3 separate regions of the Homo sapiens genome follow, and all the other regions are linked to region 1. Evidence: fine-mapped expression QTL. A gene starts in region 1. Each other region holds a variant in brackets. All regions are shown on one strand. Distances are from middle to middle.

Region 1 (2,758 bases):
TGAGGCAGGAGAATGGCGTGAACCCGGGAGGCGGAGCTTGCAGTGAGCGGAGATTGCGCCACTGCACTCCAGAGCCTGGGCGACAGAGCGAGACTCCATCTCAAAAAAATAAAAAAAAATCTCACGTCCAGAAAAATTGGCCTTCCAGGGCCCCAGAACCCTTTTTACCAGTCTAGTAATAGCCTTTCATCAGCCTAATTTCCTATTCTTTTTAGTCTGAATGTATGGTGTAATGTGCATAAAATACACAAGTCCAAATTTTAGCATTCCGTGGACGCAAAATGTGCCAAAGGTGGATACTTTGCTTCTGTCATACATCGGTAGTCAACTTCCCTATACATCAAACTTTCAGCAAATTCAAACATTTTCCTTGAAAGCTGTGTTACTTTGGCCAAATTACTTAACCTCTCTGAGCTTCAGTGTGTCTACTTCCTCATGTCATGATTAAGAGTTAATATCTACTGGCTTAAAAAAGAAAAAAAAGGAAAAAAATTAAATGAGATGATGGGTGTGAAGCAGGGATTGGCTGAATGTAAGCATTCAATAAATATTCAGTTTTAAAATTGTAATCTCAGCCTTCCCGCCCTGCAGAGGCTACACCCTGGCAGGACTTAATCTCCTAAATCTCTGCCGCTTACCCTAGTCTTTTGCACCAATTTAATCATTCCTTCACGCAGGGTCTACTGAGCGCCATCCCTTGTGCTGGACTCTGGCTACTTAAATAGGAATCAAGCCAGGTCCCTACCATTGCTCAGCCCGCAGCCGAGTGGGAAAGAAGCTCGCAAAAGCAGCAAACAGGCAGTAATCGAGGTATGTATCTGCTTTTGTTAAGGGCAAGTGGGGGAGCGAAGGTCTGTGTCTGAAACTTGGGTGTGAGGGGTTAGTTGGAGTAATCCAGGCAATTGGCACTGCCCGTTTAAGAGCACGGGCCCAAGAGGGGAAGGGGACTCCAGGTGAAGCCCTAAGGCCCGGGAAGATCTGCGGGAGGCGGCAGGGCCCAGGGCGTTGAATGCCCGGCCACAAGATCAGCCTCCTCCCATTGGCGAAAGGAGCCCCGAAGAGCTTGTGTTCAGGAGGGAGGCCTCGGCCTGGTCAAGTCATCTAGCAGGAAGAGTCCCGGACAGTGCAAAGCAAATGCAAGAAGACCCCCTCCCTAGCCGATGGGAAATGCCCCAGCCGTTGAAGGCGGAAATAACGGCCTGTAGGCAACGGAACTCCCAGCGTTCGCAAAGGAGGGAGGAGCCGGAAACTCAGGGCGCGAGGCCTGTGGGCCCAGCGGTGAGGCAGCAGCTGGGGGCGGGGGGAGGGCGGACCTAGCTTCCCAGGGCAGGTGATTCGTCGGCCCCGGTGGCGGCGGCGCGTGCGACGGTCACCTCGGTTTGGGTGAGTCCCTGGGTTCGAGCCCGGGCCCCGCCAGCTGCCGAGTTGCCTCTCGGTGCCGGACTGTGACTCCCTCTGGCCGGCCCTGCACTCTGGCCTCCTGGGACGTCATCTGGAGGGATAGAGCCAGGCCTGGGACTCCTTTTGGGAGAGTTTCCGTTCTTCTATTCCGTGCTGTCCGGCCAGGACCCCTCAGGGACTTCTGTGGGGCAGGGGCGAATCATGCATGGCCTAGATGACCCCATGCCTAGAAAAAGGCAGTGCGGGGCGGTGGCGGCGCGCACGGCCGAGTGAAGCAGATAGCGTCCCCGGGGCTGGAGCCCGGTAGCAGGGGTAGGGAAACGCGGAGGCTGCCAGGATGCGGACCCAGGGGACGCGAGGCGGGGGCGCCGGATGGGGAGACGCGAAGGAGGGGGAAGGGGATGGGGGAGGGGGCTAGACAGGGAGGGAGGGTGGAGCGTGGGCGGGGCCTGGGGCGGGTCGGACTTTAGGGAGTTGGAGCGGGGGTTACTGGTGCTAAGACCACCTGGGGCTAAGGTCCGAACACTTGGAGGCAGCACCATCCAAGGAATGGGTTGAAACAGCAGGAGCCCGGCGGGGCGCAGTGGCTCACGCCTGTAATCCCAGCACTTTGGGAGGCCGAGGTGGGCGGATCACCTGAGGTCAGGAGTTTGAGACCAGCCTGACCAACATGGTGAAACCCCATCTGTACTAAAAATACAAAAAAAATTAGCCGGGCGTTGTGGCGCGTGCCTGTAATCCCAGCTACTCGGGAGGCTGAGGCAGGAGAATCGCTTGAATCCGGGAGATGGAGGTTGCAGTGAGCCGAGATCATGCCACTGCACTCCAGCCTGGGCAACAAGAGCGAAACTCTGTCTCAAAAAAAAAACAACAACAACAAAGAAAAAACAAAACGAAACAGCAGGAACCCGCCAAGAACAGCCTTGAAGGAAGGTAAAGGAACCGCCCCAGTATCCAGGACATCAGTTTTTCTTTTTTTTTTCTTTTTGAGACGAAGTCCAGGCTGGAGTGCAGTGGCACGATCTCGACTCACTGCAAGCTCCGCCTTACGGGTTCAAGCCATTCTCCTGCCTCAGCCTCCCGAGCATCTGGGACTACAGGCGCCCGTCACCATGCCTGGCTAATTTTTTTGTATTTTTTTTTTTTTTTTTAGTAGAGACGGGGTTTCACTGTGTTAGCCAGGATGGTCTCGATCTCCTAACCTCAGGTGATCTGCCCGCTTCAACCTCCCAAAGTGCTGGGATTACAGGCGTGAGCCACCGCGCCAGGCCCAGGACATCAGTTTCAAAGGTTGTGTGGTTCTTGGCAGAGCGGGAGCCCACACCAAGATAGTGCATGATAGGCCTAATAAAGGTGC
Region 2 (2,758 bases), 420 kb after region 1:
AGGCACAGGCAGAGGAGGAGGGAATCCAAGAAGGTGCAGCACCAGGGGAGGCCGAGGAGTTTCCATGGGGACAGAGCAGCTGGCATGTTCAGAAGCCTACAAAAGAGGCTATGAAGGTGCTCACTGATTGTCTGGAGGGTCAAGGGGTGGGGGTACCTAGAGCTCATCCTAAAGCCCCCTACCCGGGCAGGAGTCCTTGGAATCACTCAGCCCCAGCTGTGACGCACTCACACAGCACACACACCTGTCACTTGCTCACACAGCTCCGGTGGCCACTGGGGCTGCCCCATGCTCACCCAGCTGGCGGCGTACACAGTCGCGCCACTGCAGGCCGAGAAGGTCGGGGTAAATGTCCGGCAGCTGGCGCAGCGCCAGTAACTTCAGCATGCGTGAGGTGCAGCCTGGCAGGGCGAGCTCCCGCAGTGCCCGCTCCTCCGACAGCGTGGTGGGCCGCAGCTCCACACGATGCTCCTGCAGCACATGGTCCACAGAAGCGGGTGGCAGCCGAGGGAAGAGCCGCTCCTTCACCAGGTGAATGGGCACGAAGATGGCGCCAGCTCGCACCACATGGGGGAAGGGGCACCGGTGGGTGCGATCGAAGCGCTGCAGCTGAGACAGCAGCTTGGCCAGCAGCCCCTGCACACCCTGGCAGTCCTGCCACGCAGCCTGGCCCCAGGGCCCAGCCGTCTCTAGCCACTCGCGAAGCTTCTCTGGAGGAGAGTGGGCGACGGAGCCAGAAATAGCATCACACAGGGACGCATGTAGTCCTGTAAAATGCTGCTCCAGGGAGTCCCCTGGGGCTGAAGTAGATGCTGGAGCAGGGCCTGCAACTGGAGCTGGAGCTGGAGCTGGATCCCGGGCTGAAGCTGGAGCCTGAGCTCGAGCCGGAGCAGGGGATGGAGCTGGAGCAGGGGCAGGGGAGGCCACAGCTACGGCTGGAGGGCTGGGCAGTGCCAGGCTGAAGCAGGTCACAGACAAGGGCTGTTGAGCGAGAATCCGCAGTCCAATGGGCCCAGATGTGGGGGTGGGTGCAGGCTGTGTGGGAGCAGGAGCTGAGGTGGGCGTGGACGGGACCACGGCTGCAGGCAAAGGTGCCGGACGGAGGATCTTGAACTTTCGGAACATGAAGGCCACAGAGCTGTGGAAGTTGGTCCTTGGCATGGCATCTGTGGTCACTGGCACCCCAGGCAAGCCTGGTGCTTCTGTGTCTATCTTTTTCAGGCCTGGCAGATCTGACACCATGTTGCCCACATCTGGCACATCCATGGCTGCAGTAGGCTTGGCATGCTCCACAGAACGGGAAGCCTTGACAGGGGAGGCCTCTGCTGTGGGCTTCCTCACACTCAAATCCAGGGCTACCTCCTCCTTAAGTGAGCCCCTTAGGGGTTTACTCCCTGAGGGGCCCTCCTGGGCAGGCAGGGTCCCCCTGCAGCCTTTGTCCTGACCTTCACTGGTGGCTGGGGCTG[A/C]GTCAGGCTCAGCTGTGGCAGAGTCAGGCTCAGTTGTGGCCTCGGGTGCCGGCACATCCAGATAGTCACGGTAGGGGGCCAGGCTGAAGACATTGTCAATGACAGGCATTGGTGGAGAGCTGGGTGGCCTTGCGCCCTCCTTCTGTGGAAGAGACTGGCACTCCCGGGCACAGGGGGGCAGTGCTGGGGGGGTACAGGGAACTGGACTGTCTCGGATGACGATGGGCGGCCCAGAGTGCTCACTGAGCCGGGGCTGGAGCTTCTCTTTCCTGCAGCTGGGCAGCCAGGTCTTCTCTTCGGCTTCCTGTGCAGGCCTCACAGGCTCTGAGCAGGGCTGGCTCGCTGGCAAAGGCTGGCATGCCCTCTGGAAGGCACCAGGCTGTGGCACAGCCCGCACATTGTTCTGGGAAGGTGGTGTCCCTCCAAGCCCAGGGGATGCTCCATAGAGAGAGAGGTCATCCCGGGCATAAGGAAAACTCAGTGTCTGGGGGGCAAAGTCCAATGGGCACCGTGGAGTGAGAGGCGGCTCCAGCTTGAGGCCTGGAGAGGGTGCTGGGAGAGGGGCAGAGGGGTAGGGGTAAGCGTCCAGCCCCAGTGGGGGAATGTAAGGTGCCTGGGCTGCCTGCTGCCTCAGGTAGGGGCTGCCCAGCCCACCAGCCTGGTACCCGGTCCCCTTGTGGCCCCCCAGAGGCTGCAGTGGGAGTGCTGGGCTGTAGCTGCCCTGCTTCTCTGGGTGGCGACAGGCTGGAGGGCAAGGCAGGGCCTGTGGAGGGTGGGGTGGTGGGTGGTGGGGTGGTGGGTAGTGGGTGGGCCCGGTGTCCTGACAGGGTGGCCCCAGGGGCTGGGCCAGCTGGGTCCAAGGACTTGAGGGCCCCTCAGACATTGCTTGCTTGGAGTTCCTAGGGTAAGGACCTGTGTACCTGGAGGCCAGGAAGCCCGTGCTGTGGATGGTCTGATATTTCTCCAGGAAGGGCTGGCATGGGGAGAAGCTCCCTGAGGAGTCTTTACTGGACCCCTCAGCTGGCACCCCCCGCAAGAAGGTGCCATCCAGAGTCTGGCCCTTGCTAGGAGCTGGGGCCAGAGAGCAGGGTGGGTCAGCTGAGGGCAACAGGGGCCCAGTCGCCAGAGTCCAGTCAACATCCAGTGGCCTCTTCACTGCTCCTTCCCCCAGACAAGTTGAGAGCCCATAGCACAGAGGGTTGCGGTAGACAGGTTTGGGTGCTGCCAGTGGTGGGCCTGGGTAGGAGTGAGCCTGGGGACTGAAGGGCAGGAGCTCAACAGGGCTGGAGTCC
Region 3 (2,758 bases), 370 kb before region 1:
GGCAGAGGCTGTTAGTGTCCAATAACTATGTGGTCCTCTGTGTTTGAGCCTCACATACAGTTAGACTGGGTCTATGTGACTGGGTTCTGGACAGTAGAGTATGGGCAAAAGGGATGCAAGCCAGTCACAAGTCTGGCCCTGAAAAACCAACTCCTGAAAAACTCCAGCTCTCATTTTTCCTGCCTTAGTGACCTTGGAGGCCATGTTCTCCAGGTGTCAGGGCCAAGAGATGGAGAAGGGCTGCCTGACTGGCATTGGGCATTAGACAGTAGTGTGAGCAAGGATTAAACTTTCATTGTATGAAGTCACCAGTATTTGTAAGTTTGCAATTAAAGGCAGCTAGTATTAACTTTGTTGACTATTATATGCTCACACTGTACCCAGACGTATTTCTATCTTATATCTCTCTCTACTGTACTTAGTGTTTATGTGTCTGTTGTTCTCTAATAGAATCTAAGCCCCTTGGGACTGAATAATTCTCTTGTCTTTGAATTTTCTACATCTAGTATATATCATAGAATTTAATAAACTACTCAAAAATGTTTCTCGAGTGAATTTTTGAGAAAAACCAAGATGGAAAAGGATTTGGAAATTTCAATCACTAAAAAATAGGGGTATTTAATACCAAGCAAAGAAGGGTAAGAAGATGATGAGATGAAATTCTATGAAGAATATCTTTGCAATATATATCTTTGCAATACAGATTTTTAAATATTAATGGAGTTGAATTAGTATCAAAAAATAAAAATTTTCTCAGAGAAAATTAGATGAATTATCTCGTAAAAAGTTATTTGTAATTTTGTACAGAAATGTTACTGAAATGATTTTTGCCCTTATTTAGTTTACATATTTTTTTCTCTCATTAAATGTATAACATCAGCTCTCTGGAAATCTCAAGCTTTTCTTAGTCTACTAAGTATTATAGTGGGAAAAGTCTCAAATGGGGAGAAGATCATGAAAAAAAGCCTTAAAAATACTATTAAAATAATTTTTCTCTCATTGACACCTACCTCATCCTTTTTACAAAGTTTCTCAACCAATATGTGTTAGAAGAGAATTCCAAATATAGAGCTAATTCTGGCCATCAAGTAGTGATGTGTAATATGGATATTTATAGATCTTTATGATATAATTCCTATAATACATTTCACC[G/A]AAAACATTCAAGGTTTGATCTAGAATCAAATTTATTTTCATATTCTGACACAGCCATTTCATCTGATTCCTACCAAGACTATAAACAAATGTAGTAATAATAAATATAATGTTGGGATCTAGTACTATCATTATGTAGACGAATGATCTAAGCAAGTCACTAGTTGCTATAAAAATAAATGGTTACAAATAGAAATTTGGCACTTTTTCCAATTTTGTGACCAAATCTCTTCTTTGCTACTCTAAGAAATTTTATGTCAGGAACTATTATCTAGTTTCCTGACCTTTCAAAAGTGTGTTCTTTTGTATCTCTTTATTTCACTGTCTTCTATAGCTAAACACACATGCTCTATTAAAAAGCAAGGCTCATTTGTTTAATAATGTGAATAACTGAGCTTCAAACTCTTGTAGTTAAAAGATTCATACTACTCAATGAAGTTGGTATATCTAGGGAATAAATAGCCCCAATGAGTACTGTGTGACCATGGTATTATCACAATCTGAGGTCTCCCCTCAGTGTAGATTGTTAAGAGTTAAATGAAGTACATTGTGAGGGATCTCATCTCTCACAGCAGATACACATTGATTAGGCTTACAGAGCTAGTGTCTAAAGTAAGCATTCTTATTTATTTATTGAGACGTGGCCTCGTTATGTTGCCCAGGCTGGATACTTCAATTTGTTAATGTATGATGATATATAACTGACACAGGCTTGAGTTGATGTGAGCCAGGCATTCTTTTTCTCTGTAGACTGACATGTATGGGAAGCCAAATTTGTAATCAGAATATTTTAATGGATATAGAGAAAACAAGAAAACAACAAGAATTATATAATATGAAAGTCTACCTGTAATTAGTCTGATGCATTTATTTCCACAAGAGAGATAATCTGACTTAGAACTGTAATGCATGAAGTCTTCTGGCTACAATACCCTCTCTACTTAACAGTGCTTAGATAGGCACTGCCGATGTTTGCCTCTGTGCCTCTCCTTTCTGTGAGTGTCCCTTGCCAACCAACTCCTCAGACTGACAGCTCTTTCTTTAGATATGTTAATGCATATTCAGCTAGTCTCTATTATTTAAAGGAACTTTGCTTTATTCTACTCTGATCCATTGACTTTATAATTCAATTTGCATTATATAATCTTATTTCCTTCAGCTCTAAGTATTAGACATCACATCAGTTTCCCACTTGTACTTAATACACAACCTAAATATAGTTGAGGTGTGATATAGTTTGGATATGTATCCTCTCTCCAAATCTCATGTTGAAGTATGATCCCTAGTGTTTGGGGCGGGGGGGCCTAGTGGGAGGTGTTTGGATCATGAGGGCAGACCCTTTATGAATGGCTTGGTGCCCTCCTCATGGTAATGAGTTCTTGCTCTATTAGCTAATGTGAGATCTGATTGTTTAAAAGAGTCTGTGGTCTTCCCCTTTTCTCTCTTGCTCCCTCTCTCACCAGGTGATACACTGGCTCCCCCTCACCTTCTGCCATGATTGTACACTTCCTGAGTGCTCACCAGAAGCAGATGCTGGCACCATGCTTCCTGTATAGCCTCCAGAAGCATGAGCCAAGATAAACTGCTTTTCTTTCTTTCTTTCTTT

Direction of the effects. Alleles are on the strand shown, and positions count from the first base shown. SD is a standard deviation of normalised expression in the study named. Not every link is listed here.
For the expression in pancreas of the gene that starts at base 1,324 in region 1, allele C in region 2 goes with a higher level than allele A (small effect, 0.38 SD a copy in GTEx).

What was found.
Region 2: its variant is fine-mapped to the expression of SNUPN in pancreas (GTEx, PIP above 0.99).
Region 3: its variant is fine-mapped to the expression of SNUPN in whole blood (INTERVAL, PIP 0.91).

What each region holds. Positions count from the first base shown.
Region 1 is chr15:75,624,291-75,627,048 of GRCh38, reverse strand. It overlaps SNUPN (snurportin 1), which reads left to right and starts at 1,324. Exons shown (of 9, transcript NM_005701.4): 1 at 1,324-1,383. RefSeq lists an enhancer at 956-1,145 and a silencer at 1,796-1,845.
Region 2 is chr15:75,206,363-75,209,120 of GRCh38, reverse strand. It overlaps C15orf39 (chromosome 15 open reading frame 39), which reads right to left. Exons shown (of 3, transcript NM_015492.5): 2 at 297-2,758. Among named protein-coding and RNA genes, the nearest start is that of C15orf39, 5.9 kb to the right of the region's middle. RefSeq lists an enhancer at 1,797-1,846. The variant A/C (reference allele first, on the strand shown) is at 1,467.
Region 3 is chr15:75,995,210-75,997,967 of GRCh38, reverse strand. The region is part of intron 3 of NRG4 (neuregulin 4); the gene reads left to right. Among named protein-coding and RNA genes, the nearest start is that of NRG4, 16 kb to the left of the region's middle. The variant G/A (reference allele first, on the strand shown) is at 1,153.